4 linked regions of the Homo sapiens genome follow. The protein of the gene in region 3 purifies or fractionates together with the protein of the main gene of each other region. This does not show direct contact. Each region holds a gene or a part of one and is shown on either strand. Other genes may lie near its edges. The genes, in order: ANKRD17, COP1, ZNF263 and ANKRD52.

Region 1 (8,337 bases), on a different chromosome or scaffold from region 3:
TTTATAAAATACAGGGAGCTGGTTATAAATATAGTACAAAAAATGTTCACAATAGAAATGTGACAAATATAGCAAATTGCATGAGGATTTTCATTCATGATCAGAAATTTTAGTTTGAATACCAAAGACCTTAATGACCAAATAAAATAAAAGGGAGTATATTATTACTTTCTTTAAATTGTTTCTTAACGTGCTTACTAGGAAAGTTCTAGTTGAGACAGTTTTCAATTCAGAGTTCATCATATTCTTAAGTATAAGAGATTACAGATTTTATTTTTGATTCTGCATTGATAAAAGAAAGAGGAAGCCAGGTGTGGTGGCTCACCCTTGTAATCTCAGCTCTTTGGGACCTCGAGTCAGGAGGGTCCTTTCAGTCTTGTAGTTCAAGACTAGCCTGGACAACACAGTGAGATTCTGTCTCTACAAAAAATTAAAAAATTAGCTGGGCATGGTGGCTTGCACCTGTAGTGCCAGCTAGTTGGGAGGCTGAGGTAGGAGAAGCACTTGGGCTCAGGAGTTCAAGATTATAGTGAGCTATGATTGTGCCACTGCACTCCAGCCAGGGTGACAGAGTGAGAACCTGTCTCAAAACAAAAAAAAGATGTAGGCCATATACAATTTTAAAAGGCAATAATATACCATTTTCTTCACATTATAATAATAGTAACGAAATCTCAAGTTTATAATTGTTTATAGGTAAAGAAAATTTGAAATAACTTACTGGCGAAATTACTTTCAACATTTTCCCATGCACTGGTGATATGCTTTAGAATACTGTTATGAATATATAGCATTATGTACATAATCGCTGTCCCCTCTCATTGGTTAATTTTAATGAGTTTGATTTCAGTTTCTTTCTGCTGTTTTATTTCCATTTCTCACATTACCTAGCACAGTAATCCAAATTAGGGATAGAGGTCAGGTGCAATGGCTCATGCCTGTAATTTCAGCATTTTGGCAGGCCAAGGTGGGAGGATCACTTGAGCCTAGGAGTTTGAGACTAGCCTAGGTAACATGCATGGCAAGACCCCATTTCTACGAAAACAACAAACGAATAAATTAGGGATACATTCCTATTTGGGAATAGGGGTGAATTATCTATTTTCCTTGTCAGGAATTTACTAATGGGAAAAAAAATGGTACTATTCTTTCTATTTAGTGTTTATTCTCTACATAAAGCCCATAGAGGGCAGTATAGTTTATTTTTATTCAGTCATCTTTTCTACTGAAGAACTTAAAATACAAATAAAACTTCATATTTTACTTTTAATACAGTTATTACATTAGGAGTAATGGGTACTTTGGTATCTTTTACTGGTGCATACTCAAACCTTTTCAAATTATATCGTGTTTGTCTGGGATTTATTTACTTTAGAATAATCCAAGATGGGAGAGGAGAATTAATGTAGGATATTTGTGAAATGAGATTGGCCTTGTGTTTATAATCATTAAAGCTCGGTAATGGGTATGTGGAGCCTCATAATACTATTTTCTCTACTCTTCATGATTTTTAAATTTACCATAATTTTAAGAAAAACCATTCTACTAATATGATTTTCCATGCCTTTTCTGTTTTAGGAGCGAATGTGAATAGAACCACAGCTAATAATGACCATACTGTACTGTCCCTGGCTTGTGCAGGGGGTCATCTGGCAGTGGTGGAACTACTTTTGGCTCATGGGGCAGATCCTACTCACCGTTTGAAAGTATGTAACTCAAATGTTTGTGCAGAATTGTGAATTAGTATTTCTCTCTTGGTCATTGTTACAACATATCATGTACAAGTTCCATTCATAATGGCATTCTAAGTGTAAATTTTCTCCTTTTTCACTTGAAGCGTTCTTTACCAAACCTATGATTTTAATGCGTCTGGGACCTGTTGGCTTTATCTTCCTAAGTGATTCTGTAAACTAACTTATTTTTCTTCACTTTTTTTCCCCTTCCATATTCACTCTTTTAGGATGGCTCAACTATGTTGATAGAAGCAGCAAAAGGTGGCCATACAAGTGTTGTTTGCTATCTCTTGGATTATCCTAATAACTTGCTTTCAGCCCCTCCACCAGATGTCACTCAGTTAACTCCCCCATCCCACGATTTAAATAGGGTAAGATTTTAAAAATTAAAGCATTTTATGGTATGTCTTCTTTATCCTAATTCTTTCACTTACAGTTTCTGTTTAAATTAGGGTTTTTTTTTGTTCTAATATGTAGTTCTGTTTGTAAATATGTACTTGATACAGTTAATGAACATCTGGTACAATATTCAGATCCTAGATGATATGATTATGCTTTAGCTTTTAAAGGTCACAACTTGAATTCAAAGCCTACTAAAAAATGTCGTGGTAAACAATTTGGTGCCAACATATTTTAAGTAAATATGTCATTGTCTAAGATGACATATTAAAAATATTGTCAAAAAATCTCTAATTTATTCTTTATTTAGAGCATATTACTTAATGGATTGTGTAGGACACTAATAGTCACTTAGTGTCCTTTGTCTTAGGCTCCTCGTGTACCAGTTCAAGCACTGCCCATGGTTGTTCCACCTCAGGAGCCTGACAAACCACCTGCCAATGTTGCCACCACTCTTCCCATCAGGAATAAAGGTCAGTTATACTTCTAAAGACTGTTTCTTACTTGGTGTCCAGGTAAAAATAAGATTACCAAAAAATAGACATTTCTACAAACAAAGAAGTTTACTAAGTTGGCATTACTAAATTTTTAACCCATGATAAAAGCATGTTATTGGGAGAAAAAAATAGTTAATAGCACTAATTTGTGCTACAATTAGAAGTTTTAGCATGAGAAATTCAGATGCTCATCTTTGATGCAGTTCTGATTATCCATGATTTCCTTTAATAGTAATTTTTATTCATGTAAAATGTTAAGCTGGGTATAGTTGAGCAATATTTTTATAAATTACTTACCTAAATCTCTGCAGTTATAAAGGCATAAATTAACAAGATGTATCAAATATTAGAAATTTATTTTAGAATGACTGGCTTAATATAGATTTTATATCTGATCTGGGATACCTTTTCTCAACCAATAATTCAGTTACTTGAGATATGCTTGTTTATTTCTCTAGAATTCTGAGGTCCATATTTGACTTGTGTATGTTACACCATGTGTGTTCTTAAGTAATGTCCCCAAACATTTTATACCTACCGGTTTGAATCAGTTTTTCTTTTTAAAAGTTTTACCTGAAGAAACAGTGCAGTTTTTATTTTTTGGTTTTTGGCTACGTATACTCTTTTATGAACAAGAATGCTAAGTATTTTCACCAGCTCTTTTCAGTCACTACTATCAACCTAGAGCCTTGGCACCTTTTTCAGTTGGTATAGCAAACAATTGATTGCTATACCTATAGCCAGATCTGTCTGTTCACCTGGCTGTCAGAAGATACAGTGGATGGCATAGTCCAGCATCTTTTCTTCCAGGGAAACTGAATCCCAATTCTCTACTGGCCAGATAGCTGTGTGAATATGTGAATTTATATCTTGCCTCTATTAGTCTTGAAGATGGTAGGCCCCAACAAAGACATATATTTTACTCAGATTTTAATTTCTTGTTACTTCTTAGTGGTTTGGGTACTTTTTGTGTGTATGTGTGTGTGTTTAAAAGGCACAGACTATGAAATGTGAAAAAACCTGACTTAGAGGTCTGTTTCCTCTTCACCCTAATAATTTAGCATTATTGTTCTGTTCTTATGATGAGTTTTAACATCTTTATGACCATATAAAATATCTACACATAGCCTTAGATGTTACTTTAATTGCACACTTAGATATCACAAACCTGCATTCCTCTATTGTCTAATTTAAGCCATGTGCTATTTTTAAGATTCTGAAATTAATTTACAAAGATTTTGCACATAAAATACATACATTTTATATTTGTGAAAAAGAAGGTGGATTTGTTTTTAATTTTTTAACAGTGCATTTTCACCTGTTATGGATATGATTACTTAGTGCATAACTGTTGGCACTAAACCTCCCAACAGTAACTCTGTAATGAGGATGCCATTCATGTGCACTTCTGAGGGGGTTTCTTTTTCACACAGCTGCTTCTAAACAAAAGTCCAGCAGCCATTTGCCAGCAAACAGCCAGGATGTACAGGGTTACATCACCAATCAGTCTCCAGAGAGCATTGTAGAAGAGGCTCAGGGAAAGTTAACAGAACTGGAACAGAGGATAAAAGAAGCCATAGAAAAGAATGCACAGCTGCAGTCCTTGGAACTGGCTCATGCTGACCAACTTACCAAGGAGAAGATCGAGGAGCTCAACAAAACAAGGGAGGAACAAATTCAGAAGAAACAAAAGATTTTGGAGGAACTACAGAAAGTAGAACGAGAGTTACAACTGAAAACTCAGCAGCAGCTAAAAAAGCAGTATCTAGAGGTTAAAGCTCAAAGAATTCAACTTCAGCAACAGCAGCAACAGTCTTGCCAACACCTGGGATTACTAACTCCTGTTGGAGTTGGAGAGCAGCTTTCTGAGGGAGACTATGCACGGTTACAGCAAGTGGATCCTGTTTTACTTAAAGATGAACCCCAGCAGACTGCTGCTCAGATGGGTTTTGCGCCAATCCAGCCTCTGGCGATGCCTCAAGCTTTGCCTCTGGCGGCAGGTCCCTTGCCTCCAGGGTCCATCGCAAATCTTACAGAACTGCAAGGAGTGATAGTTGGACAGCCAGTACTGGGCCAAGCACAGTTGGCAGGGCTGGGGCAAGGAATTCTGACAGAAACACAACAAGGGTTAATGGTAGCCAGCCCTGCTCAGACCCTCAATGACACGCTGGATGACATCATGGCAGGTGGGTTTATATTGTTATGAGCAGGTATCAAATATGATTTGCTTAAGGCGAGTAAGAATGTACCCAAATTTTTTGCCGTTACCCAACTTGAGAACTATTTTTGGACTGACTCATGTCTAGCTTTAGAAGTATTAGTTCAATCTCAGAAGTTCTCAGATGGATACAGGTCAAATTAAAGATTAGCTCATTCAGTACAAATGACTGAAGCTTTCTGGCTTAGCTTGGTAGCTTGAGAATCTAGGTTTTTCAGTAGTGGGGTTGATGTTTGATTTTTGTTTTTGTTTTCATTTTTTTCCTTTAAGTTCAGAATACTGAGATTGAATTTTGGCATTTTGCTTCTGTATTCACACCAATAAACTGGGAAATTGATAGAAGTTGAAGTGCAAAACTAGTAGGACACATCAGGAAGCTTATTTATGAACAGAAATACTTTATATCCTAATGGATCAGACTTCAAACCTGATGGATATTTAAAAAAAAAAACACTTTTACAAAATTAATAAAGTTCAAAACCAAATAGGGTTTAATTATACTGTATGTAAGTGATTTTGTCCCCTGTGAATGTTAATGTGTAGTCTCTTTCTAACTGTATCATGAGAAGGTGTGGCCCCCCTGAAAGTATCATAAATGATATATTTTTAGATGTGTAGCCAGATAAATTTTATTCGATTATAACTAGTTTCATTGACAAGAAGATACACTTTAGAAGACTGTTTTTATGCTTCTAGTTTTTGGTACTTATTTTTTGTGTTTTGTAACAAAGTAATGGGATGAGGTTTTATAGGGTTGTGAACCATAAGAATGCTGTACTGAGAAGGATAATTTGCTTCATTAAAAAAAGAAAATTTGAAAAGGAAGGAAAACAGAAAAATGAAAGGAATAAACAGTGGAATTTTGGTGACTTCCATCTGATCTCTTCCCCTTTTTTATTCATTCATCTGTACTTAGAGGATGATTGACTTTTTCTAATTTAAAAACTGTTTCAGTAGCATTAAATATGATGAGCTTATTTTTTTTTAAGTTTCATCTTTTAAATGGATAATAGGAAACTAAACTGTATAGTGTTTAGATATTTAGGTAACGTTCAGACACTAAGAATCCAGCTGAGATAGATTTTATACTTAAAAATATCTGTAAAGTTTGCTAGTCCGCCTTTAATAGCACCTCAGTAGTTATAACATGTGGAATGAAAATTTCTGCTAGTCTTAAGGGTTAAATAACCACATTGGAAAAATGCTAGTAATAATTACTAGTAAGAATTGTACGACTCTTATTGATGAGTGCAAAATTTTTCTATAGATTTGAAAGTCACTACTAATCATGACTAGCTGATTATAATAATTGAGAGTAAACTTTTAAAATTATTAAATATCCTGTGAAAGTTGGAGCACAGTAACCATTAACCCTAAATTTGATACTATGTCCATATGAATTCAGATCATAATAGTGCTCTATCATGTGAAACTACTAAAGGATGTATAGAGTTAAATATTACGTATCCACTTTAATGAAGAATAGGTATTACACAGTAATGGTTGTTTAAAAAAATTTTTTTTATATAATATCAGAGTTTACCTGATGTGCTTGGGCATGCATAGTTGTCAACAATGATTTGCTAGTTGTACAGTTTTGTATGCTGATCAGAATTATCAGAAGTTTGTAAAGTATCTTTTCTTTTGATTCATACATGAAACAAAAACAATTCTGTGTATTCTCAGTGTTCTGTATAAAAAAATTTTAAGTGCATATAACTTTTTAGGAAATATGACAGATGCTTGTCATAATACAAAAATATTTTACTTTTTTATTATGCTCATTTCTATGGGGAGAGAAACATAGCCAGAAGGAGGAAGAGTAGGATTGAAAACATTTGGCTACTTACCTGCAACTCATCCCTGACAACAGGCATGTGCACATTCACACACATGCACATATACTCATGCACTGACTTTTGCAGCCTCAATCTTAAATTTCTGTGGTAGGATGTATCCTTTCAGTTGCTTAATGATGATTTCCACTTCTTTCTTAGGGGTTTAAAGTATATTACAGCCTCATTAGTCTCATCGTCTTCTTTTCCTCCCTCTAGCACAGTCCCTGCTCTTTATTTCTTAGGCTTCATTTATTAGACTTCTACCATAAAATTTGCTGACCAAAATCGTCTGTCTTTCCTGTTCTTCACACTTGCCAAACCAGAATCAGCTCCCTGTTTAACCTGTCTCAACACCTTGCCTTTGCTATCATTTCAAGTTCCCTTTTTTCTATGCTGACATTAAAACTTTTCTGATGTGTGGTTCTCCCTCTCTAAATCTAACACTAAAATGAAGCCCCACATGTAAAGATTTTTACCAGAGTTCCTTCAGGTACCTACATATTTTACATTTGTTTCTTTTAGTTGTAGAGAATGGATGTGTGATTGACAGTCACCTAATTTTAGTAAACCAATTTTATAGGTACCCCGAAGGAAATGATGAGATAATTGATTTTTCCTGTCTCCTTTTAGATGAGGTGATAAGAACAACCAATTTGACTTAAAAAAAAAAAAAAAAAAAACTCTGTAATTTTGGTAGGTTCTTTAAAAGAAAATATTCCAGTTGAAATGTAAATTATAATTTAGTCATTTAACAATAAAACTTAGATTTTTTTTAACCTGTTTAGTATTATGAAATAAAATTTAGTGATTCGGACAGACTGGTGTTCATCCTGTTTAAGCTACTTTTTGTATTTAGCAGTTTTATTGTGAAAATCCAATCAAAGGAGATATGGAATCAATTTAAAGAGCTCTAGATTTTATATGATTTTGAAATGTATATCAACAATATGTACATTTAAATTATCTTGATCTTTTCGTAACATACAAAACTATCAATATGGAGTAACAATATCCAGATCGCTAGATTATCAATTTAATATATTAGTATATGCCCTTTTCTATTGGTCTGGATCCCTAAGGATTCAAACAGTGTTTTGTTTTGTTTTGTTTTGTTTTCTCCTTCGTTTTTCCTTTGGCTTTTAAGTGGACTTAAAAATGTATAATTATAGAATGTGTGTTGCTATAATGTATAGTGTATGTTTGTGCCTGAACTAAGGATTTCATGTAAAATAGATTTCTTAATTCATAATTATGTTTATAATTGTTATAATAAGATCAATTTCAGTTTTATTCTTGACAGGATCATAATCTCTTTTGCCTGGTTTCAGATCCAGTTGTGAATCATGATTGTTTTCTGTCTGATGTAGTTGATAACTACTTTGGTAATACACATCCACAGTACTGTTGACCAGTCAAAGATAAATGCCCATACTTTAATACTATAGCATTTTTAATGGGGTTGGGGGAGATGATGTTCACCTATCAACTCCAGAAATAAGGCAATGAGAGAATAAAGTACCCTCAGCTGAATCTACAGTATATCCTATGCCAGCATATTTGGAGTCCTCCCACCTCAAGTACTGATCAGAATAGCCTTTTCTTAAGTTGCATATTTTGGTGAAAATAATATCACAGCAACATCATACTTAGAA
Region 2 (8,337 bases), on a different chromosome or scaffold from region 3:
AAATGTATTTTGTAGACAGCAATTCTACTTTGAAATAGTACTTAATTAGAGGACCATATAGGCCACTATCCTTTACCTGTACCAATTCTTTTTCTCCCTCCCTATTAAAATACCAGCTCAGCTTAATGTTTATCAAGCTTATACTGCACATAATCAATAAAGAAAATGAGACAGAATGCATATTTTGGAGGAATTTCCAGTCTTATAGAAGAGATATGAACAGACAATATGATAATGGTTATAACTGAGATATGCACTAAATGCTATGGGTCACAGAGGGACATTATGACACCATGACATTGCTCTATTACTATGCATTTCAATCACTACCTAAAATGCCTATTGTCTTTGGTGACACATTACAAAGTTTTTTAAAAAGTACATACCACATACCAATTTATATTTTAAAATTTAATCAAACCCTGTGTATACATAATGCATAATATGAGATCCCAAGGTGAAAAAACTGATATGAAAACTTACCCCATCTGGTAGTGCCCTCCAGCACACAGCACTAACAAATTCATTTGTATCATCTTCTTTTCGGTCTTTGTCGAGAACACTTTTGACTGTATCAAACTTAAAAGTTAGCAAAGTCTTAGAAAGTCCTTTATAGTACAGGTAGAGAGAGTTATTTTCACTTCCTGAAAACAAATAATAATAATAGTATTTTAGAATAGAAAAACTCGGAATTAGGACATCACAGTCTAATAGTAATTATCAGCCAAAGTTATAGTTCAAAGATCTTTTATGGGCAAATTTGAAAGGCTAGATCACAGGACTAATTAGAAATCATGTAAGAAAAGGATTCTTGGACAAAAGCTATACTTTACTAATCTAAAGAAACAATCAGTGTTAAATGATACAACAATACTGATAATTCTAAGGCTAAAATTACCCTATAAAATCATTTATAGAGGTTGGTACAAAAGTAATTGTGGGTTTTGTCATTACTTTTAATTACTTTTGCACCAGCCTAATAAGTCTATAGTAGAACCAGAAATATATTATAAGAATCTTAAATTACATTTAGGAAGATTTCCATTTAGAGAGGTAAAAGAAAGTGGCAACACTTACACAGGCAGATTTTCATAGCCTACATAATTTATTTCCATTTCTCAGTATAGGAATTATTCTATTAATGGTCTATGAACTGTATTTTTATTTTTGAGCCATCTATTAAAGATAGAATAATTGTTCCAGATATTTGCTTTGGCAGTCTCATACATATGTGGAGAAAGTCAACTTTGCTGAACAAAGGCCAAGTCATTTAAAAGTATGATCAAAGCTCATCTATTCAGGCATTAGATGTATCAGAGCATTTGAATAATATCAAATTTGATTTTTCTATTTCTTATTTAAATTTGTATAAATTATCAACAATAAAAGCCATAGAATAACAGATCAATGCTATGCAAACAGATTACTTCATGAAGAGAACAGCAGATAGGGGAAAATGAATATCAAGCTTAAGAAGACACATAATGTCTCCAAAATTGGAAATATTACTAACAGAACTTAACCTTTTCTGTCTTCTACACAATATCTAAAGAATTATGTTATAATGGAGAACAACTATAAAACAGTTAAAAATCAGGTGTTCAGGTATTTGAGGTGTTCAGGGTTTCTACACAATAAAAAAGGGAAGGACTAATGCTCTTCTAGTACAACACAAGGAAAATCAGTAGTGCTGGGGCATCATGTCTATTATACTATCTTCTGAGTGCACAGACCATTTCTTGACTTAGTATTTATTCTATTTCCACTGAGTTCAATTTCAATAACAAACACCTGTTAAAAAGTTCCTGGAAACGATGGTTTCACTTACCACAAGCTATATAATCTCCATTGGAAGCCAGGCCTACAAAGTTTTTTTCATTGATATGACCCTTGAAGGAACGTAGGCAGTATGGTTTCCCTACATTCCACAGTTTTAGCTGACTGTCTGTTGAGCTGAGGAAAAGTACAAAGAGTAAGAACTTACTTAAAATTTCTTGGCACGAAACTCATCACTACTAATTAGAGGCAATGCAGTTTGCTGGTTAAGAATGCAGGCTCTGGAGCCAGACTGAGTTAGCACGTTCATCTGTCGGCCAGGCGTGGTGGCTCACGCTTGTATTCCAAGCAATTTGGTAGGCCGAGGCAGGTGGACCACCTGAGGTCTGGAGTTCGAGACCAGCCTGGCCAACATAGCAAAACACCGTCTCTACTAAAAATACAAAAATTAGTCGGGCGTGGTAGCACGTGCCTGTAGTCCCAGCTACTTGGGAGGCTGAGGCAGGAGAATCACTTGAACCTGGGGGGCAGATGCTGCAGTGAGCGGAGATCACACCACTGCACTCCAGCCTGGGTGACAGAGCGAGACTCTGTGCCAAAAAAAAAAAGTTTTCTTTTCAACATATTTAAAGTCACCATGAAATCACAGATAAATGACCATGTCAGTGTAAAAGCCAACCAAGTAATATTTAAAACCAAAAATAATTCTACTACTATACTGCAAGTAGATAAAATACACAGTAACACATGAGTTGACTTTAATAAATAAAATACTTCTCATTCTATTGCATCAACTATGTTGTTTATCTCTTCTTTAGAAGCAATAGCTAAAATCTAATCTGAAGTTCAAATGCAATTAAACATAGGAGGATGAGATAAGGGGGGAGGGTATATAAAAAACTAGTATCTTCAGGATTTTACCCACAATTCACATATAAAAGTGCACAATACAGACCAGAAACCACACTACTTTAATTGGACAAGATTAAAAAAAAAATCTACTATTTAAGAAAAAGTACATATACTCCAATATTATAGTTTACATACACCCTCAGTGACATTACAAGCTGGTAGGTAAGTACAGAGCTCTGTATTAAGCTCAACCTCTGAGGAGAGTAATACTCACGCAGAGACAATTTCCTCACCACTCACAAACTTTGCATAAGAGACTGCTTTACGGTGTCCTTTGAATACCATGATTGGCTGTTTAGTGTTACGAAGATCATAGTAGTGGACACAGTGATCTAAAACAAAACAAAATTAGATAAATGTAGTAAATGCAGAAATGGAAAGCAAAGTTAATTTTAACTGGTTTTTGGTTTTTTCATTAAAAGTTTCACATATGATGTCTAATCTCTAACAGCCAGAAAACAAAGGAAAAGGAATCCTTTTCAAATATAAGATTGGCTCTAGAAAGAGAGTATTAAGGGGTCAAAATAACTGGAAACTTAAAAATCAATCTTTGTTTTAATGATGTCATGAAAAAAATGTTAATATAAACATTATGGGACATCTGGATAAACATAATGCTATATAATCTTATTTCCCATATTTGTTTTAAAAAACCATTATTTAGATATATTTTGCATATAATAAAATACACACACTAAAAATATTGTATGCAATTCAACGATCTTTACTAAATTTAACCAGCAGTTCAACTATTACCATAAATCAGTTTTAGAGTATTTCTGCACTCCGATAAGATCACTCATTTGGCATCCACCATCACAGGCAGTCTCTATTCCTGTCTGTCTCTATCACTAATTTCTACTCTAACCTTTATTATTTCCTTCCTTCTGCTTGTCTTCAGTTAGCTTTGTTATTCTTTTTAAAGACAGACACTTAAGGATACACAATTCTCTATCAACACTGCTTTGGCTGATACCACAAATTGTGATATGATGTGTTTCCATTTTCATTCAGTTTAAAATCCTTTTACATTTCCTTTGTTATTTCTTCTTTGACTAATGGTTATTTAGTAATGTGTCATGTAATTTCCAAATACTTGCAGATGTCTCAAAGTAACTATTGTTGATTTTTAATTTAATTCCATTTTGGTCAGAAAACTGTTTTGTATGTCTTCAATCATTTTAAATTTATTGACAGAAAACTGTTTTGTATGTCTTCAAGCATTTTAAATTTATTGACTTATTTTTAGTCTTAAATATGGTGTCCCCTGGAGACTGTTACTAACACTTGCTTGAGAAGAATGTGCATGCTTCTACTGTTGGCTGAAGTGGTCTTTGGATGTCTGTTATGTCAGATTGACAATGTTATTCAAGTCTTCTAAAACTCTGCCAATTTTCTGTCCAGTTTTTCTATGAAATATCAAAAGTGGAGTATTTTTCAACAACTTCAGTCAAAATATCTGTTTTTCCCTTAAATATCACAGATTTTCTTTTCATATATCTACAAAAAGTTTGTTTTGAGGTGTGTTGATAATTGATGTATCTTTTCACTATTGATTCTTTTACCATTATAAAATGTCTTTGTTTCTAGTACTGATTTCTACTCTAAGTATATTCTGTTCGACCTAAATATAGCCATTCTACCATTTTTCTTGACTACTACTTACATGGTATATCTTTTTCCATCCTGTTACTTTAACCTATTTGTGTCTGTGAATCTAAAGTCTATCTCTTGTAGACAGCATAAAGCTGGATTCTAATTTTTTTTTTTTTGTAAACCCATTCTGCCAATCCCTGAATGTTACAACATTCAACATACTTACATTTAATATAATTATTAATAGGTTGCACATCTGAAATCAAAAAATCCCAAATCCTTGCTTTTGGAGTGCCAACATTTCAATCAAAGCTCCAAATGCTTCTTCATTGGAGCATTTCAGATTTTGGATTTGAGATGCTGAACAGTAAGTACAATAATACATACTTAACAATGGAGATACATTCTGAGAAATGTATCATTCAGCAATTTCATCACTGTGTGAGCATACAGTGTACTTTCACAAACCTAGATGGTATAGACTACTACACACTTAGGTTATGTGGAATAGCCTATTGTGCTCCTATGCTACAAACCTATGTATCATGTTACTGTACTGAATGCTGTAGGAAACTGTAACAATGGTAAATATTTACGTATCTAAATATAGAAAAGCTACAGTAAAAATAAGATATAAAAGGTAAAAAATGGTACACACCCATACAGGGGACTTATGATGAATGGAGTTTGCAGGACTGAAAATTGTTTTGGGTGAGTTAGTGAGTGGTAAATGAACATGAAGGCCTAAGACGTTAACAGTATACCTAGGCTACACTAAATTTACTGTAAAAAAGTGTTCTCCCTTCAGAAATAAATCAACCTTACCTTACAGTGATTTTCTGACTTTATAAACTTAAAAAATTTTTAAAGCTTTTTGACTCTTGTAATAACACTTAGCTTAAAACACATACATTGTACAGCTGGACAAAAGTATTTCCTTTTTACATTTCCTTATAAGTTAAAAAATTAAAATAGGAAAAAGCTTTTTAAACTTTTTTGTTAAAAACTAAGAAACAGAAAGTTAGCCTAGGTCTACACAGGGTCAGGATAATCAATATCACTGTTTTCACCTCCACGTTTTGTCTCACTGAAAAGTCTTCAAGGGTAATGATATGCATAGAGATGTCATCTTCTCTGATAACAGTACCTTTTTCTGGAATGTCTCCTGAAGGGCCTGCCTGAGGCTGTTGTATAGTAACTTAAAAAAACAAGTGTAAGAAGTACAGTCTATAATAATGGTAAAAAGTAAATAATAAACAAGTATATAGTTATTTATTATCTTTATCAAGTATTGTGTAGTATACGTAATCGTATGTGCTAGACTTTTTGAACATTTTTAATTTTTTTTGAGTATTATAGTTGGTATATACACTTATGTGGAATATGAGATGTTTTGATACAGGCATGCAATGCATAATAATCACATCATGGAGAATGGCGCACCTACCTCAAGCATTTATCCTTTGTGTTACAATCTAATTATACATTTTCAGTTATTTAAAAATGTACAATGGGAGGTGGAGGCAAGATGGCCAAATAGGAACAGCTCCAGTCTACAGCTCCCAGAGTGAGCGACGCAGAAGACGGGTGATTTTGCATTTCCATCTGAGGTACCAGGTTCATCTCACTAGGGAGTGCCAGACAGTGGGTGCAGGAGAGTGGGTGCAGCGCACCGTGCGCGAGCCAAAGCAGGGTGAGGCATTGCCTCACTCGGGAAGCGCAAGGGGTCAGGGAGTTCCCTTTCCTAGTCAAAGAAAGGAGTGACAGACGGCACCTGGAAAATTGGGTCACTCCCACCCTAATACTGCGCTTTACCGACAGGCTTAAAAAATGGCGGACCAGGAGATTATATCCCGCACCTGGCTCGGAGGGTCCTACGCCCACGGAGTCTCGCTGACTGCAAGCACAGCAGTCTGAGATCAAACTGCAAGGCGGCAGCGAGGCTGGGGGAGGGGCACCTGCCATTGCCCAGGCTTGCTTAGGTAAACAAAGCAGCTGGGAAGCTCGAACTGGATGGAGCCCACCACAGCTCAAGGAGGCCTGCCTGCCTCTGTAGGCTCCACCTCTGGGGGCAGGCACAGACAAAAAGACAGCAGTAACCTCTGCAGACTTAAATGTCCCTGTCTGACAGCTTTGAAGAGAGCAGTGGTTCTCCCAGCATGCAGCTGGAGATCTGAGAACGGGCAGACTGCCTCCTCAAGTGGGTCCCTGACCCCTGACCCCCAAGCAGCCTAACTAGGAGGCACCACCCAGTAGGGGCAAACTGACACCTCACACCGCCGGGTACTCCTCTGAGACAAAACTTCCAGAGGAACGATCAGAGAACAGGACTTGCGGTTCACGAAAAGCCGCTGTTCTGCAGCCACCGCTGCTGGGACCCAGGCAAACAGGGTCTGGAGTGGACCTCTAGCAAACTACAACAGACCTGCAGCTGAGGGTCCTGTCTGTTAGAAGGAAAACTAACAAACAGAAAGGACATCCACACCAAAAACCCATCTGTATATCACCACCATCAAAGACCAAAAGTAGATAAAACCACAAAGATGGGGAAAAAACAAAGCAGAAAAACTGGAAACTCTAAAAAGCAGAGTGCCTCTCCTCCTCCAAAGGAACGCAGCTCCTCACCAGCAACGGAACAAAGCTGGATGGAGAATGGCTTTGACGAGTTGAGAGAAGAAGGTTTCAGATGATCAAACTACTCTGAGCTACAGGAGGAAACTTAAACCAAAGGCAAAGAAGTTGAAAACTTTGAAAAAAATTTAGACGAATGTATAACTAGAATAACCAATACAGAGAAGTGCTTAAAGGAGCTGATGGAGCTGAAAGCCAAGGCTCGAGAACTACGTGAAGAATGCAGAACCCTCAGGAGCCGATGAGATGAACTGGAAGAAAGGGTATCAGTGATGGAAGATGAAATGAATGAAATGAAGCGAGAAGGGAAGTTTAGAGAAAAAAGAATAAAAAGAAATGAGCAAAGCCTCCAAGAAATATGCGACTATGTGAAAAGACCAAATCTACGTCTGATTGGTGTACCTGAAAGTGATGGGGAGAATGGAACCAAGTTGGAAAACACTCTGCAGGATATTATCCAGGAGAACTTCCCCAATCTAGCAAGGCAGGCCAACTTTCAGATTCAGGAAATATAGAGAACGCCACAAAGATACTCCTCGAGAAGAGCAACTCCAAGACACATAATTGTCAGATTCACCAAAGTTGAAATGAAGGAAAAAATGTTAAGGGCAGCCAGAGAGAAAGGTCGGGTTAACCACAAAGGGAAGCCCATCAGACTAAGAGGGGATCTCTGGGCAGAAACTCTACAAGCCAGAAGAGAGTGGGGGCCAATATTCAACATTCCTAAAGAAAAGAATTTTCAACCCAGAATTTCATATCCAGCCAAACTAAGCTTCATAAGTGAAGGAGAAATAAAATACTTTACAGACAAACAAATGCTGAGAGAATCTGTCACCACCAGGCCTGCCCTAAAAGAGCTCCTGAAGGAAGCACTAAACATGGAAAGGAACAACCCATACCAGCCACTGCAAAATCATGCCAAATTGTAAAGCCCATCGAGGCTAGGAAGAAACTGCATCAACTAACGAGCAAAATAACCAGTTAACATCATAATGACAGGATCAAATTCACACATAACAATATTAACTTTAAAGGTAAATGGACTAAATGCTCCAATGAAAAGACACAGACTGGCAAACTGGATAAAGAGTCAAGACCCATCAGTGTGCTGTATTCAGGAAACCCGTCTCACGTGCAGAGACACACATAGGCTCAAAATAAAAGGATGGAGGAAGATCTACCAAGCAAATGGAAAACAAAAAAAGGCAGGGGTTGCAATCCTAGTCTCTGATAAAACAGACTTTAAACCAACAAAGATCAAAACAGACAAAGAAGGCCATTACATAATGGTAAAGAAATCAATTCAACAAGAAGAGCTAACTATGCTAAATATATATGCACCCAATACAGGAGCACCCAGATTCATAAAGCAAGTCCTGAGTGACCTACAAAGAGACTTAGACTCCCACACAATAATAATGG
Region 3 (6,807 bases):
TTAGATGCTTAGAAGGAAATCTTTTGGATCATCTGTCGACAGTTGGCACTTTCTTACATGCCAGGCATAGTGCTGCTTTATGTAGTTATTTTCTGTGATGTCATCTCATTAAAACAGGCCAAGAACAGCTAAGCATGTGAAGTTTACTAGAAGGGGAACTAGACTGAAGATTTGAGTGAAGCGTTCCAATGGAATGCCTTTTTATGGCAAATACCTGAGAGTCATTTCCCAGCTTCAAGCTGCAGTGTTCCAAGTATGAGCAGCACCAGTTGGACCACATCATAAGATCTGTGTGGGTGATGTTACCAAGGGAGGGAGAGTAGATGGAAGGGGCGCTTTCCAGTCTCTGTCCACATAAACTGCCATCTTAACCAGAGTGCTTTGTAGGAACACCAGCTTTACATTCCATCCAATTCATGACATCAGCAGCCTGGCTGGCCCTGCACTGCTCCACTGGAGTGTGGTCCTGCTCCTACCACTGTTGATCCTACTCTGATCTCTCTAATCCTAACCCTCCACTTCCCTGCCCTCAACCCCCACACCACCACTGCCCTCCTCCTGTGAACAAGCTGATTAAGAGGAAGTTACAGAAATGAGAAATAGTGAGATATTAAAAAACTGGCTCAGACAACCAAAGAAAAACACATACTAAACTGAGGCAGGGCTGAGAGAAGGATCAATGGAGCGCTGTTTCCATGACTTCAAGTTGCTATATCCATCAGCCTGTTCCCAAAGGACTGTTTCTTCATCTTTTTCACCCGAAGAACAGCTGGATACCTTCCTCCGGGGCTGTATCCTGAGGTGTTTTCCTGGCATCCGATTTCCTACTCTTAGAATACTCCCCCGTTTCCCACAGATACACACTACTAGAATTCCTATTTCTGATATGCCATTCTAAAATGCAATGCTAGTAATCCCAGCACTTTGAGAGGCCAAGATGGGAAGAAGGCTTGAGCTCGGGAACTCAAGACCAGCCTGGGCAAATAGTGAGACCCCACCTCTACCAAAAAATAAATATAATGCTTTCCCTTAATAATTGCGCCATCTCCTATATCTTCCTACCATTAATAATCAATAACTCAGTTATACTGGGACCATCTTAACTTCCACCCTGGAAATCAGTTGCAAGACCAAAATATCCTGTTCTCTAAGAGTCAGATCTTCCTCAGCTACTGAGTAAGAATGTAAACATTCTAAACAAAGAATTGAAAACATTTTTACTGCTATAGACCACAGAAGGAAAGAATACTTTCTAGAGACCCTATGACAGCATCACCCCAGCAGCCATTTGGCTTGACCCTTTGTTACCACATGGCAGTCCCAGCCTGGAGGCTGCCAGGCCCTCACCTGCCTCTGCCTGTCTGCTGCCTCCTTTGTCAGCATCTTCCTGACCAACCCAGTAAGTCTATGAGAAAGCAGGGCCTCTGACCAAGGCAGAGGGGAGACAGATCAACACTCGGGGGTCTAGACAGAGGCTTTCATTGAAGACTCACAGACATTTATGTTTCCTGAAGATATTTATTCCCATCCAAACATTTTCAACAGGGAAAGACACAATCCCCAATTTCCCCCTAGGATTCACATTTTCAATTTTCCAGGGAATCTCTCTTTCCTGGAATGCTCTCGTTCCTCTGGAGTCAGGAACAAGACTCCAGAGCTGTTTATTTTTCTCACACAGGTGGGGGGAATCTCATTCTCCACAAAGGGTTATCAGACACCTACTTCCTCTGCCAATTCCTGGGCTGACCTGCAAATTCCACCTTATTATTGCCCTTGGGCCTCTGGTTCCTTTTTGTCTGAGGTCATATTTACATGTGTAATCTGCCAATGGGCACTCCTGTTAGGCCATCGTAGGGCACGTGGTGGCTTGATCTGGACTGCCCATGGCTTCCCAACTGGGGCCTTCGGGACAGCTGCAACTCACAACCAGTCTTTTGTTGACCTTCAGCTGATTTCCCAGGGTACTTGGCCCCTCTTCTTTGGTCTCAGGGGCCCCGGAAGCCCAAATGCTCCTACTGAATGTCCCAAATGAGGAAGAAGTATCAAAAACATCACATGGATTCCCAAACTTGTTAAGGTAAACTGGACAGTCAGGTGCCCAAATCGCACCTTGGCTTTAAAAAGACCAAGAGGGTAGGAGCACCCTGGGGCAGGGTGGACTTAACAGAGAATTCCACCCTGAGGTCACCTCAGAGACTTGCCATCCTTTCTCATGCAGACAGAACTCCTTTTCAGTTTTATGCCAATCCTCTGCTGCCTCTGCACCTCCCTCACAATGAGCCCCCATTACCTGAAGAATGCAGAGGTCATTTGGTCGGCTGGGCAGGGAATACCAGCTCTTGCCAACAGGCTCCTCTGAATATGCCACCTCACCTGGGGCAAAGAGAAACCCCACTGTTACTAACCTGTGTGAGTTCTCTGATGACTCATAAGACGGGAACTCCGAGAGAAGCTTTCTCCACATTCAGAACATTTATAGGGTCTCTCTCCCGTATGCGTTCTCAGGTGGCGAATCCGATTGGAGCTGTGAGAGAAGCTGTCTCCGCACTCATGACAGGTATAGGGTTTTTCTCCTGTGTGGATTCTCTGGTGCCTGATTAAATTGGATCTATGAGAGAAGTTTTCCCCACAAAGGGTACATTTATACGGTTTCTCTCCTGTGTGTGTTCTCTGATGTCTGGTGAGGTGCATGCCCTGCCGGAAGCTTTTCCCACAAGTCAAACATTCAAAGAGCTTCTTCTCTGCCTTATGGGCTCCATGGTTTGTAAGAAAGGGGGTGCTGTCACTCACAGCTTCCCCACACTCAGAGAAGGGGTAAAGTCTCTCTCTCTCATGAGTTCTTTCGTGAATGACGAGGTGTGAACTCCGAGAGAAACTTTTCCCACACTCGGGACACTTATAAGGTCGCTCTCCAGTGTGAATTCTCTGGTGCCGAAGGAGGTTGGAACTGTGAGCAAAGATCTCCCCACACTCAGGGCACTTGTAGGGCTTCTCCCCAGTGTGCGTTCTCTGGTGCCTGTGGAGGTTGGAGTTGCAGGAGAAACATTTTCCGCAAATGTTGCACTGATAGGGCTTCTCACCCGTGTGGGTGCGTTGGTGGCGAGTCAGATGGGTGTTCTGACTGAAGCATTTCCCACATTCAAGGCACTTGTGGGCCTCCTCTCCCAGGTGTGCTCTGTGTAGTGACAGGAAACGTGGGTTCCCACCAAAGATTTCAGTGCAGTCCACACCCATACACAGTCTTTCAGCTGCATGTATTCTCTGGTGCCTAATTAGGTTTGAGTTGTTAGAGAAATTTTTGCCACACAAGGGACATAAATGGAGTTTCTTTGGCTGCAGTTCCTTCGGTCGCCCCAGTTCTCTGCCACTTGAGGCTCCTGCCAAGGCCTGCTCCATTCCACCCTCTGGGGGAGGCGCCCAATCCCCTTGCGACCGGTCATGAGGTCTTCCCAGCTCAGGACTCCAGGGCACCTCCCCTCGGGCCTGGTCAGGAAGCAGCACCTGAGGGTGGATGTTCTCAGAGCATACAGACGGAACACCTTCCAGGTTCTCAAATTTCTCTTCTCCTGGTAGAGAGAGAGAAACCAAACCCGTACATTATTTCTATGCTGGAGAAAAGAAAATCCCACCTGTCTGCCGCTGCCTGTTAGGTCAGCAGCCCAGAAGGGCTGCTTCTACCTCAGAATCCCATCCTCTCCTAAAGGTAAAGCACTCTGGAGAAGCATCAGGATAAAGGGTCGGGCCACTGGTCAAGGAATCAGAGCCGAGACCAGTCTTAGAATTTTCCTTTCCACCTGAGCCTCTCGATTCTGCCCTTCAGGAATGGGTGGGATGGAGCAGGGCTGAGAGTAGGGTGGGACAAGTAAGCTCAAGAATAAGGGCCTCCTTGAACTCTGCACCCTGGGTTCCTCACTTGCCTCACTGGGATGGAGAATGGCAGGGTCAAAGGACGTAATGTACCTCTCTAGCAGCTGTGCTGGGCCGGCCCTGCACCCAAATCCTCAAATGCCTTACTCTGCTGGGGGCGGTGGCTCACACTTGTAAATCCCAGCACTTTGGGAGGCCGAGGTGGGTGGATCACCTGAGGTCAGGGAGACCAGCCTGACCAATATGGAGAAACCCCGACTCTACTAAAAATACAAAAAATTAGCTGGGCGTGGTGGCGCATGCCTGTAATCCCAGCTACTCGGGAGGCTGAGGCAGGAGAACCGCTTGAACCTGGGAGGCGGAGCTTGCAGTGAGCCGAGATCGCACTGTTGCACTCCAGCCTGGGCAACAAGAGTGCCACTCCATCTCAAAACAAAACAAAACAAAACCAAAAAATGCCTCACTCTTAACTGCAAGAGCCTTGCTGCTTGCTGCGCAGGCCACTTGTCTTCATTCCTTACCTGGAGCTGGGCCTCTGGGGCTCAGGCCCTCCTTGCAGCTCTGGACACTGGGATCCCATAGCTTTCCTCCTTGTCCCACCTGGGTGCCTGGGACCTCCTGACTGGGAATGTGAGACTCTGTTCACAATGAAAGAAACAGATTTCTGTACTGCCACTTTCCTCTACCAGGGTAGGGAAACAGTCTTGTTCCCTGCCCTCAGTGGATAAATACAGAATGCTCCATAAATCTGACAGCAGTTACTTGGAATATACACAAACTGTTCCCAGTGGATACCTCTAGAGAAAGAAATTAGGGGAGGGAGACTTTTTTTTTTTTTTTGAGACAGAGTCTCACTCTGTCGCCCAGGCTGGAGTGCAGTGGCACGATCTCCGCTCACTGCAACCTCTGCCTCCTAGGTTCAAGCGATTCTCCTGCCTCAGCCTCCCAAGTAGCTGGGATTACAGGCGTGCACCACCACACCCGGCTAATTTTTGTATTTTTAGTAGAGATGGAGTTTCACCATGTTGGCCAGGCTGGTCTCGAACTCCTGACTTCAAGTGATCTGCCTGCCTCGGCCTCCCAAAGTGCTGGGATTACAGGTGTGAGCCACTGCGCCCGGCCAATTTTTTTTTTTTTTAAATATTCATGGTACTTGGAATGTTTTTTTTTGCAATGAGAATGTACACTACTGTAATTGAAATAACTATAAAATGAACATGGTCAGTTCCTTGAATAATCCATTTAATATCATAAAAGGGCCTTGTCTCTACATATAAATACAAAATAGAACTAAATTTGACCGGACAACTCCAGGGAAAGAAAATATAACATAATAGACAATCAGAAAAGGACCCAGGGCTCTAAGAGGACCATGAGATTAAAACCCACAAGTGCCATTTCTATGCTGTGCCAAAAAGAAAAACAAAAACCTCCACCTCCAGCAAACATGGACTCCAACAGAAGTTTAATTCCAACAAGCTGTAATCTGATCTTTTCCTATTTAGCATCTCTCACTAAAAGGGCCATGTTCAACTTTGGACATCACAGCAGTGAAAAGTAATATGGAAACTGGTACAGTGGCACACTTCCTGACTAAGGCAGGAAGACTGCTTGAGCCCAGAAGTTCCAGAGCAGCCTGGGCAACAGAGTGAGACTCACTTCAAAAAAAAAAAAAAAAAAAAAAAAGGCCGGGTGTGGTGGCTCACACCTGTAATTCCAGCACTTTGGGAGGCGGGTGGATCACCTGAGGTCGGGAATTCAAGATGAGCCTGACCTACATGGAGAAATCCTGTCTCTACTAAAAATACAAAAAATTAGCCGGGTGTGGTGGCGCATGCCTGTAATCCCAGCTACTCTGGAGGCTGAGGCAGGAGAATCACTTGAACCCGGGAGGCAGAGGTTGCAGTGAGCAAGATTGCGTTTGCAGAATTAGTGTCAACAAATGTACAGTTGTGATACTTTTTAGGCAAACCTGATATATGGAAACAATGTGCGGTGTGTCTTGTTTGTTTTGAAACAGAGTCTCACTCTGTCACCTGGTTGAGGTGCAGTGGCATCATCATAGCTCACTGCAGCCTTGACCTACTGGGCTCAGGTGATTCTCCCCTCAGCCTCCTGAGTAACTGGGACTACCACCACCACACCAGTGAGTCTTTCTACTGGTGTGTTTCAACATAGGTATAATCATAATGTACACACAGTCTTGTTTTATGTTAAGACTTCCCCAACTTTTTATTAAAAGAATTCTCATACATACAGAAAAGTTGAGGGAATTGTACAATAAATACAAGCATATCCTCCACCTAAATCCAACTATATGTCAGTCTGTCATATTCCGTAGGCATAATTTTAAAACTCTGAGTACAGTACAAGACATAGGTAAATCTTAATTTATGATATGGCCTACTTTGGAGCTATACATTGTTTCCAAATTTCCACAAGACCCTCCCCACTTTCTGAATTTTTATGGGCTGTGAGAGATGATAGGCTGGAATGTTGATCCTACTACCCCTGAAATTTTTGTCTTTGGGGACGAGCCTAGAAACACTAACGGAACACAGGAAACACTGGCGAGCTCATAAGAATAAGCATCTGAAAATTGCAAGGAATCAACCATTTAGAGCCCCCCAGCATCCTGGAATACTGCATGTGTGTGATGCTGGCAGGTTGTCACCGCATTGGGTTTGCTCTGCCCTAGGAAGTGCACATGGCTCAGACTCGCCTTAGGCTCTGGCAGCTGGGACTCCAGTCCCGGGCTGCCTGTGCCAACTGTACCACTTGGCAGATACATGACTCTCGTACAGGGGACTTTAGACAAAGGGAAGTCTCCTGTGGAGGCTTCTTGGCAAAACTCAGAGTCTGTGTCCAGGAGGTGAATGAATAACGGGCAGGACCCTGGTCAGAAATGGCGCAGTCATCATCCCTGGAAAAGAAGTCCTT
Region 4 (8,337 bases), on a different chromosome or scaffold from region 3:
TCCACTTGCGCTTGCGCTCCTTGATGAGGGCAGAGGCGCCGTGGGCTGTAAGCACCTCCACACACTCAGTAGAGCCGCGCTCCGTGGCCAGGAAGAGTGCGGTCCGGCCCTTGTGGTCCCTTACGTCCAGATTCACCAGCGTCTCCGCCAGCGTCTTCAAGGCTTCACAGTGACCGTTGTAGGCCTGGCAAGGTGCAGGCAACCAGTGCACACAGCTCGGGACCTTCCCTGCTCCTCCCTTCCCCTTCTCTGCTCTTGGGGTCCCTGGGAAGCTCAAGGTCTTAGTCCTTGACAAGCTCCTTGGGCCCCTTAAGGCTTCCTACCCTGCACTGTGCTTATCCCCTCTCCCACAAAAAGGCAGAAGGAAGGATAACTTCACAAGTGCTGGCACCTTTGTTAGGGCCTGGGAACAGGTAGGACAAGGAAGGCAACAGAAAAAAGACGTGGGACTCACAGCTAAGTGCAAAGGGCTGACTGGAATGGTGCTCTCCACATCCTCCAGGCAGTTAAAGGACATTTCTAAGAGCTGCAAAGGACAGGAAAGTAGGTGCTGAGACTCTGGAACTCCCAAGATAGTACCCCAGTCCCCGACTCGCAGTAATCCCCACTAAGCCTCTGGATCCAAAGACCACATTTGATTGAACCCTTAGTTTTGGAATCCACAAACCCTGTGCCCTGCCCCTGCCTCCCCTCCTGCAGGCCGGGCCCCAACACATACCAGTTCGAGGTTCTGTCTGTTGCCATAGGCGGCTGCATAGTGCACAGCTGTGTAGCCCTGCCTGTCCCGCAGGGAGGGGTCTGCACCGTTATCCAGTAAGAACTCCAGACAGCTGGGGAGCCGGGGGTAGACTGTGAGGCAGGGACAGGCCCAGCCCAGGAGGGCACAGTTCTGGGAGGGCCAGAGGAGAGGACCAAGGCCCTCCAGGCCTACCTGGCCGCCACCCGTCCTCAGCTCTAGGTAGGTTCTCTAAATCCTACCCATTCTTCAATGGCAGCTCCAGACCCACTTTACCTTCTCAAGGTCTGCCCTGAACCCCTCTGGCTTCAATGCCCTCCTTTATCCTCTGAATGCTCTCCTAGAGAACCTAGAGCATGATGTTCAGTTATCAGCCTTCTGCTGACCAACATGCTTTCCCCACCTCCAGGCACGCCAACCCCTGCCCTAGGATGCTTTCTCCTCCCAGCCCACCCGAATAAGTCCTGTTCATCTCAAACTCAGTCCCAGCTTCTCTCCTCTGTGAGGCCTTTCCCAGCCTTCCCTGGGGAAGATGCCTCTTCCTCTGTGCTCCCTTGGCAGTCTTCTCATACCTTAGTAGTAGTTGTAGTAGTAGTAATAATAATAAAGTAGCACTTACTGTCAAGCACAGTTCTAAGTACTTCATGTATATTAAATAATTTAATCCTCATAAAGATCCCATGAAGTAGATACTATTTTTATCCTTACTGTGGGTGATGAAATTGAGGCATAGAGAAGTAACTTGCTGAAGGTAATAGCTGAGCCTCTTGGATTTTAGTGTCCTTTTTAAAAAAATAAATCTTAAAAAAAAATTATTTAATTTACTTATTTTAAATGGAGACAGGGGCCTGGCTCGGTTGCTCACATCTTTAATTCCAGCACTTTAGGAGGCTGAGGTGGGCAGATCACCCGCGGTCAGGAGTTCGTGGCCAGCCTCGCCAACATGGCGAAACCCTGTTTCTACTAAAAATACAAAAATTAGGCTGGGCGTGGTGGCTCACGCCTGCAATCCTAGCACTTTGGGAGGCCAAGGCAGGTGGATCGCCTGAGCTCGGGAGTTCAAGACCAGCCTGGGCAACATGGTGAAACCCCGTCTGTACTAAAATACAAAAAATTAGCCAGGCGTGGCAGCGTGCTCCTGTAGTCCCAGCTACTCAGGAGGCTGAGGCAGAATTGCTTGAACCCAGGAGGTGGAGGTTGCAGTGAGCCAAGTTCATGCCACTGCACTCCAGCCTGGGCAACAGAGTGAGACTCGGTCTTCAAAAAAACAATTAGCTGGGCGTGGTGATAGGCACCTGTAATCCCAGCTACTCAGGAGGAAGAGGCAGGAGAATCGCTTGAACCCCGGAGGTAGAGGTTGCAGTGAGCTGAGATCGCGCAACTGCACTAGAGCCTGGGTGACAGAGCAAGACTCCATCTCAAATAAATAAATAAATTAATTAATTTATTTATTTATTTAATTAAATAAAATAGAGATGAGTTCTCATTATGTGTTAGCCAGGCTGGTCTCATACTCCTGGGCTCAAGCAATCCTCCCACCTCAGTGCTGGAATTACAGGCATGAGTCACTGTGCCTACCTGATTTTTGTGGGTTTTTTTTTTTTTTAGAGACGGGGTCTCACTAGGCTGCCCAGGCTGGGGTGCAGTGGCTATTCATAGGCATGATCATAGTGCACTACAGCCTCAAACTCCTGGGTTTGCATGATCCTCTTGCCTTACCTGCACCTGCCTCCTGAATAACTGGGAATATATGCATGTGCCACCGTGCCCAGCAAAAAATAAACTTTTTGTTTTAGAATATTATTAGATTTATAGAAAAATTGTGGGCTAGGTGTGGTGGCTCATATCTGTAATCCCAGCACTTTGGGAGTCTGAGGCAGGAGGATTGCTTGAGCCCAGGAGTTCGAGACCAGTGTGGGCAACACAGAGAGATCCCTGACCTACAAAATAAATTAATTAAAAAAAAAAAAAAAGAAAGAAAAAGAAAAATTGTGAAGATAGTACAGGGAGTTCTCACATAACCTATACCTAGTTTCCCGTCATTAACATCTTACATTAGTATGCATAAGTGTCCTTTTATTTATCTTTCCCAATAGATTATTAGCTTTCGAAAGACAGAAATTTGGGACAATTCATCCTTTTTAAATTTTTATTTAATTTTATTTATTTATTTGTTTTTTTGGAGACAGAGTCTCACTCTGTCGCCCAGGTTGGAGTGGATTAGTGTGATCTTGACTCACTGCAACCTCCACCTCCCTGGTTCAAGTGATTCTCCTGCCTTAGCCACCCGAGTAGCTGGGATTACAGGTGCCTGCCAACATGACCAGCTAATTTTTATATTTTTAGTAGAGACGGGGTTTCACCACGTTGGCCAGGCTGGTCTCGAACTCCTGACCTCAGATGATCTGCCTGCCTCGGCCTCCCAAAGTGCTGGGATTATAGGCGTGAACCACCACACCCGGCCTATTTTTAATTTTAATTTTTTTGAGACAGAGTCTTGTTCGGTTGCCCAGGCTGGAGTGCAGTGGCGTGATCTCGGCTCACTACAACCTCCACCTCCCTGGTTCAAGCAATTCTCCTGCCTCGGCCTCCTGAGTAGCTGGGATTATAGGCGTGTGCCACCACACCTGGTTAATTTTTTGTATTTTTAGTAGAGACGGGGTTTCACCATGTTGGTCAAGCTGGTCTTGAACTCCTAACCTCAGGTGATCTGCCTACCTCAGCCTCCCTAAGTGCTAGGATTACAAGCTTGAGCCACTACGCCCAGCCTCATCTTTTATCCTTAGTATCTAGCACAGTACTTGGAACCTAGTAAGTAAATATTTAATTAATGCTTGTGGAATAAACAAATTATTTTGTACATTTAGCTTTTCTAATCCTCTCAAGAAGACCAGCCGGGCGCGGTGAGCTGAGATCACACCACTGCATTCCAGCCTGGGCAACAGAGTGAGACTCTGTCTCCAAAAAAAAAAAAAAAAAAAAAATCCATTCCTTTAGGGAAGGAACTATGTCTCATACTTTTGGGTTTTTTTTTCCCCCTGAAGCTCCTGAGCTTCAATCTCATACTTTTGTCTTTGCCCACTATGGACTACACCCAGAGGGCTCAAGACACACTGCTGGCTGACCGGCAGGACAGCAGCAGTATAGGGTAGAGGTTCAGATTAGGTAGGAGGACAGTAGGGCCAGAGCTTGCATGGGTTGGGGAAAGCACATCCCAGGGGCCCTCTCTGCTACTCACAAGAAGGCCTCCTTCCTGCGGGACTCCTTCAGTGGCTCGTCCTCTTCGGCATCATGGCTGGAAGGTGTATGGGGTTCCGCTCTGGGGAAGAGAGAGAGAAAGTTAGGGCCAGGCTCAGGGAGGTGAATGGGGCTGAGAAGGACCAGACTGGTAGCCTCACCTCCTGTAAGTGTCAGAAGCGGCAGCGTAGTGGAGGGGAGAGCAGCCTTTACAGTCGGCCTCGTTGACACCTGCCCCAGCAGTCACCAATGTTACTGCACACTGGTAGCTACCGTTAGCAGCTGCATAGTGCAGTGGGGTCCTGGGGAAGAAGTGAAGGAGGGTGGGGAAGAGAATCAGAGACAGATACGAATGCAATCAGATGTGCAGCCAAATGCTGCTTTGTAACATTCTCCTTATTTAAGTCTCCAATCTAAACCCTTCCTCCCTCTACCATTTGTTTCTCTAATCAGATATTCCCTATGTTTACCCCTGCATATTAGCATACCTGCCAAATTTGTCCCTCCTCCTCAAGTCAGCTCCACTGCTCAACAGCAAATTAAGACATTCAACATTCCTAAAAGAAAGATGTGTTAAGAGAGTTACAGCCTCAAAGGGAAGCCACAGGCCCAGGGTGGGGCTAAGGAAGGATGGGACTAGCAAGCCCTTTCTGCTGTGACTGCTTTCATTGTGAGAGGGGGAATAGATCTGGGCAGGCAAGAATGAGGGGCCCAGACCTTTGCCCAGCTCCCTGCTCAAAGCATGGGAGAGAGAAAGAGAACTCACCCTCCGGAAGCAGCAGCATGAAGACAGGTACGGCCAAGGTTGTCAGGTGTATTGATGTCAAACCCAGCTGAAAGCACATGCTCATTGCTGAGTGAAGACACAATGCTGTACAACTGACCTGGAGGCACAGAACAGCCACAGGTCACATCTGAGAGTGTTCAGCAGGGAGGGAAAGGCCTTTGCTCTCCTATACACCTGCCAATCCCCAGCCCATCAGCACATACCTGAGGAAAGAAGCTTACGACAACAGTCAGAGAATCCAAAGAGAACAGCTAAGTGCAGGGGGAACATGTCATGGATGCCACGCCTAGAGAGAAGTTGAGGGACTCAGTCCTTGGGTCAAGGAGGGACCAAGTAAGACCTCTTCTGTGACCTACCACCACCCTAGAGTCAGGGTAGGAGGTTCTCCAAGGTGCCCTTTGGCAAGCTTATCTGTGCCTCCATGGTTGATGTGAGCAGTCTGTGCAGATCTGGGCAGCCCAGAAGTGGAGTCGGGGCCCTGACTCACCGGGCGGTATCTGCGCCATTGGTCATGAGGGTGCTGATGAGCAGCTCGTGTCCATATCGAGCAGCCACATGCAGTGGCGTGTTCCCAAATTTGTCGGCACAATCAATCTCGCTGCCTGTGAGGGGATGCACACACACAAGCTCAGGCAGACCTCAGGCTTAAGACCACTTTCGCGAGCTAGCCATGATTTGAGTGCCTACTATGTATGCATCAGGTGCCAGGCCCAGGATTCTACATATTTTATCCTGTTTCTAGGCCTTAGGAGACTGGGCAGGGCAGAGCAGGGCCATTTCCACAGGTCCCTTGGTCAGAGTTCCAAGGGCCTATCCTACTGGAAGAGGGCAGGAGAAGGAAGTTAGGAACCTCCCTAGATTCTAGAAATGAGTTCCTTGGGGGAGGAGGGGATGAGAGCACAAAGTCTCCCAGGTCCATACCATTCTGGATGAGGATCTGGGAGCGTGTGAAACGGCCATGGATTGCAGCCATGTGCAGAGGACTTTTCCCTTCTTTGCTCTGTGGAAACATGGTGGGTTTTTGTTTTTGTTTTTTTTTCCAGTGCAAAGCACAGAGAATGCCCTACCTCCCTTCCAAGGACATATCTCTAAGGACAAAAGGGTCATATGGCACCTTCTTAGCCCACTCTTTCCTGAGTCCCTGGCAAGGTCTGATTACCCTAGGAAGCAAGTGGATAATTCCCCAAGAGAGCTATCCAGATACAGTCAGGACCCCTAGATCCAAGTTTCGCTCCCCACTGGTCTAAGCCTTATCCCTTCAGGCACCTGGTAGTTGACGTCAGCCCCATTATTAACCAGTAGCTCCAAGCAGAGAGCGCCATTGGTGGAGACTGCAGCCACATGCAGTGGCGTGAAGCCCTTGTCATTCGGCTGGTTGACATTGGCTCCGGCATTCACCAGCTCAATAGCCACAGCATCCTGGCCCAGGTAGCAGGCGATGTGCAAAGCTGTGTTTCCAAAAGCATTGGGTTCATCGATCTGGATATTCAGGGGTGAGAGTAAGGTGGTATCAGTTTAAACAAAGTAGAAGCCAGCACATGTAGCCTCCAGATCCCAGAAATCCAACGACTGCCTCATTTCCTCTCGGGTTTATGACCCAAGGTACTAAGGTACTAAGGGCACTATGGCTAAGGTAAGCATTATTCAGACCCTCTCTACCACGTCCTTCCAACTTCCCAAAACTATACCAACATCCCAATACCTCATATCTCCGTAACAGACTATAATCTCCTACTTGCTGCCCATAGTTCCCAACCCCAGAGCTCAAAGCCCTGACCTCCGCTCCCATCCGAAGCAGGTACTTCACCACTTCAATCTGGCCACTGGCAGCAGCTGTATGGAGCAGCCCATAGCCCTTGCGGTCCTTGCAGCCGAGGTCTGCTCCCCGTGCCACCAGCAGTTTTAGGACCTCCAAGTGCCCTGAGAAAAGAGAAGACACTCTAAAGGAAGTAGAAGGTAAACTCTAAGACCCTACACTCCTCTCTTCAAAGGCTGCAACCCCACATCCCTGCCCTAGGAATCCTAAATGTCAAATTTCTGATTTTCCCGTGTATTCTCTCTCACCTAGAAAAGCTGCCCAATGCAGAGGCTGCCGCTCCTTTTTGTCACAGACATTCAGGCTGGCTCCCTTGTTGAGGAGCAGGTTCACCGTCTGCATCAGGATATGAAAGACACCTGTTCAGAGCTAGATTCGTGCCCTCAACCTACCTAAGAGCAGAGGCCTCATCTCCTGAAAAGGCTGAGGCAGCCTAATGCCTTTTTCCATGAGCAAAACAACCTGGAGGACTCGAGGGAACAGCAGAAGCAGGCACTAAGGAGGAGATACTGGAGAGATTTGGAACTTTAAGGGAAACAAGAGAGTCTCTTCAGGTGATCTGGTGGTTCTTAAACTCTTTTTTTTTTTTTTTTTGAGACAGTCTCGCTCTGTTACCCAGGCTGGAGTTCAGTGGCATGATTTCGGCTCATTGCAAGCTCCGCCTCCCGGGTTCACGCCATTCTCCTGCCTCAGTCTCCCGAGTAGCTGGGACTACAGGCGGCCGCCACCACACCCGGCTAATTTTTTGTATTTTTAGTAGAGACAGGGTTTCACCATGTTAGCCAGGATGATCTCGATCTCCTGATCTCATGATCCACCCGCCTTCGCCTCCCAAAGTGCTGGGATTACAGGCGTGAGCCGCCGTGCCCGGCCGGTTCTTAAACTCTTGTAAGTCTTTGCAAATGTGCTGAAAGACATGGACTCTCTTCAGAAAGGCGTGTATGCAAATATTTTCCACGCAAAATCCAAGGTTTTATCAACCTCCTGAAGTCCAAGTTAAGAATTTTAATCTAGTCTGACCATTCATTTAGTGCTTCAGCTTAAGTGTTTATATAACCATCCGGGCTGCTTCTCCTTCAGGCTTGAGGGCCCAGAAGCAGGGAAACGTGAGTAGGAAGGTAAGAAAAGGGAAAGCCCCAGCTGGGCCTGGATGGGAACAGTCCTCACCTCAAGATGCCCACTATGCACTGCATGGTGCAGAGCACTGCGCCCGCTCCTGTCAGCCACGTTGAGGCTGCTCAACAGGGGTGCCAGAGCCTCAGCACACTTGGTGGCCCGGTTGGCAGCAGCCACATGCAGTGGTGTCTGCCACAGCTTGTCCCGGGCATTCACATCTGCTGAATGTGCCAGCAGCAGCCCCAGCACCTTCTGTTGAGGGGCAGGGGACAAAAGAGAGAGTGGGAGCAGGAGGTAAAACAACAGGAAATGGAAGGAGGAATAGGTCAGCATAGCATCTACAGCCCCTTCCCCAGCACAGAATCTCTTCTCATTTTTCCAACATACCTAGCCTCTGAATACCTACTTTCCATCTTCTGGATCTTCTTAGAACTTAAGCTCTTCCTTACCTTGCTGATTAAAACAAGGACCCTTTGCTCTTCTTCAAGCCACCTGACTCGCCAACTTAGACCCTGAAAATCTTCACTCACACATACATCCATTCCCAAACAAATCCACATGTGGAGATCCACACATCCCAACCCCCTACTACTTCTAGGAAAACTAAATGCTCTTGCTACATCTTGCCCTGAACACCCTCTTTAG

The links.
Region 1: the proteins of ZNF263 (region 3) and ANKRD17 purify together in Homo sapiens (affinity purification with mass spectrometry; 2 studies listed by BioGRID and IntAct, with this or other methods). This does not show direct contact.
Region 2: the proteins of ZNF263 (region 3) and COP1 purify together in Homo sapiens (affinity purification with mass spectrometry; 2 studies listed by BioGRID and IntAct, with this or other methods). This does not show direct contact.
Region 4: the proteins of ZNF263 (region 3) and ANKRD52 purify together in Homo sapiens (affinity purification with mass spectrometry; 2 studies listed by BioGRID and IntAct, with this or other methods). This does not show direct contact.

Annotation. Positions count from the first base shown.
Region 1 is NC_000004.12:73,136,009-73,144,345, reverse strand, and holds part of ANKRD17 (ankyrin repeat domain-containing protein 17), read left to right. Parts: intron 1-1,578; coding exon 1,579-1,706; intron 1,707-1,960; coding exon 1,961-2,104; intron 2,105-2,502; coding exon 2,503-2,605; intron 2,606-4,062; coding exon 4,063-4,815; intron 4,816-8,337.
Region 2 is NC_000001.11:175,986,460-175,994,796, forward strand, and holds part of COP1 (E3 ubiquitin-protein ligase COP1), read right to left. Parts: intron 3,021-8,337; coding exon 2,903-3,020; intron 1,954-2,902; coding exon 1,829-1,953; intron 645-1,828; coding exon 484-644; intron 1-483. UniProt on the Homo sapiens protein: E3 ubiquitin-protein ligase that mediates ubiquitination and subsequent proteasomal degradation of target proteins.
Region 3 is NC_000016.10:3,286,152-3,292,958, reverse strand, and holds the end of ZNF263 (zinc finger protein 263), read right to left. Parts: intron 4,506-6,807; coding exon 4,389-4,505; intron 3,567-4,388; coding exon 2,401-3,566; 3' UTR 1,499-2,400; downstream 1-1,498. UniProt on the Homo sapiens protein: Transcription factor that binds to the consensus sequence 5'-TCCTCCC-3' and acts as a transcriptional repressor.
Region 4 is NC_000012.12:56,248,041-56,256,377, forward strand, and holds part of ANKRD52 (serine/threonine-protein phosphatase 6 regulatory ankyrin repeat subunit C), read right to left. Parts: intron 7,945-8,337; coding exon 7,744-7,944; intron 6,913-7,743; coding exon 6,825-6,912; intron 6,681-6,824; coding exon 6,538-6,680; intron 6,240-6,537; coding exon 6,027-6,239; intron 5,761-6,026; coding exon 5,682-5,760; intron 5,363-5,681; coding exon 5,248-5,362; intron 5,047-5,247; coding exon 4,964-5,046; intron 4,858-4,963; coding exon 4,740-4,857; intron 4,531-4,739; coding exon 4,462-4,530; intron 4,276-4,461; coding exon 4,135-4,275; intron 4,056-4,134; coding exon 3,975-4,055; intron 831-3,974; coding exon 719-830; intron 527-718; coding exon 455-526; intron 185-454; coding exon 1-184. UniProt on the Homo sapiens protein: Putative regulatory subunit of protein phosphatase 6 (PP6) that may be involved in the recognition of phosphoprotein substrates.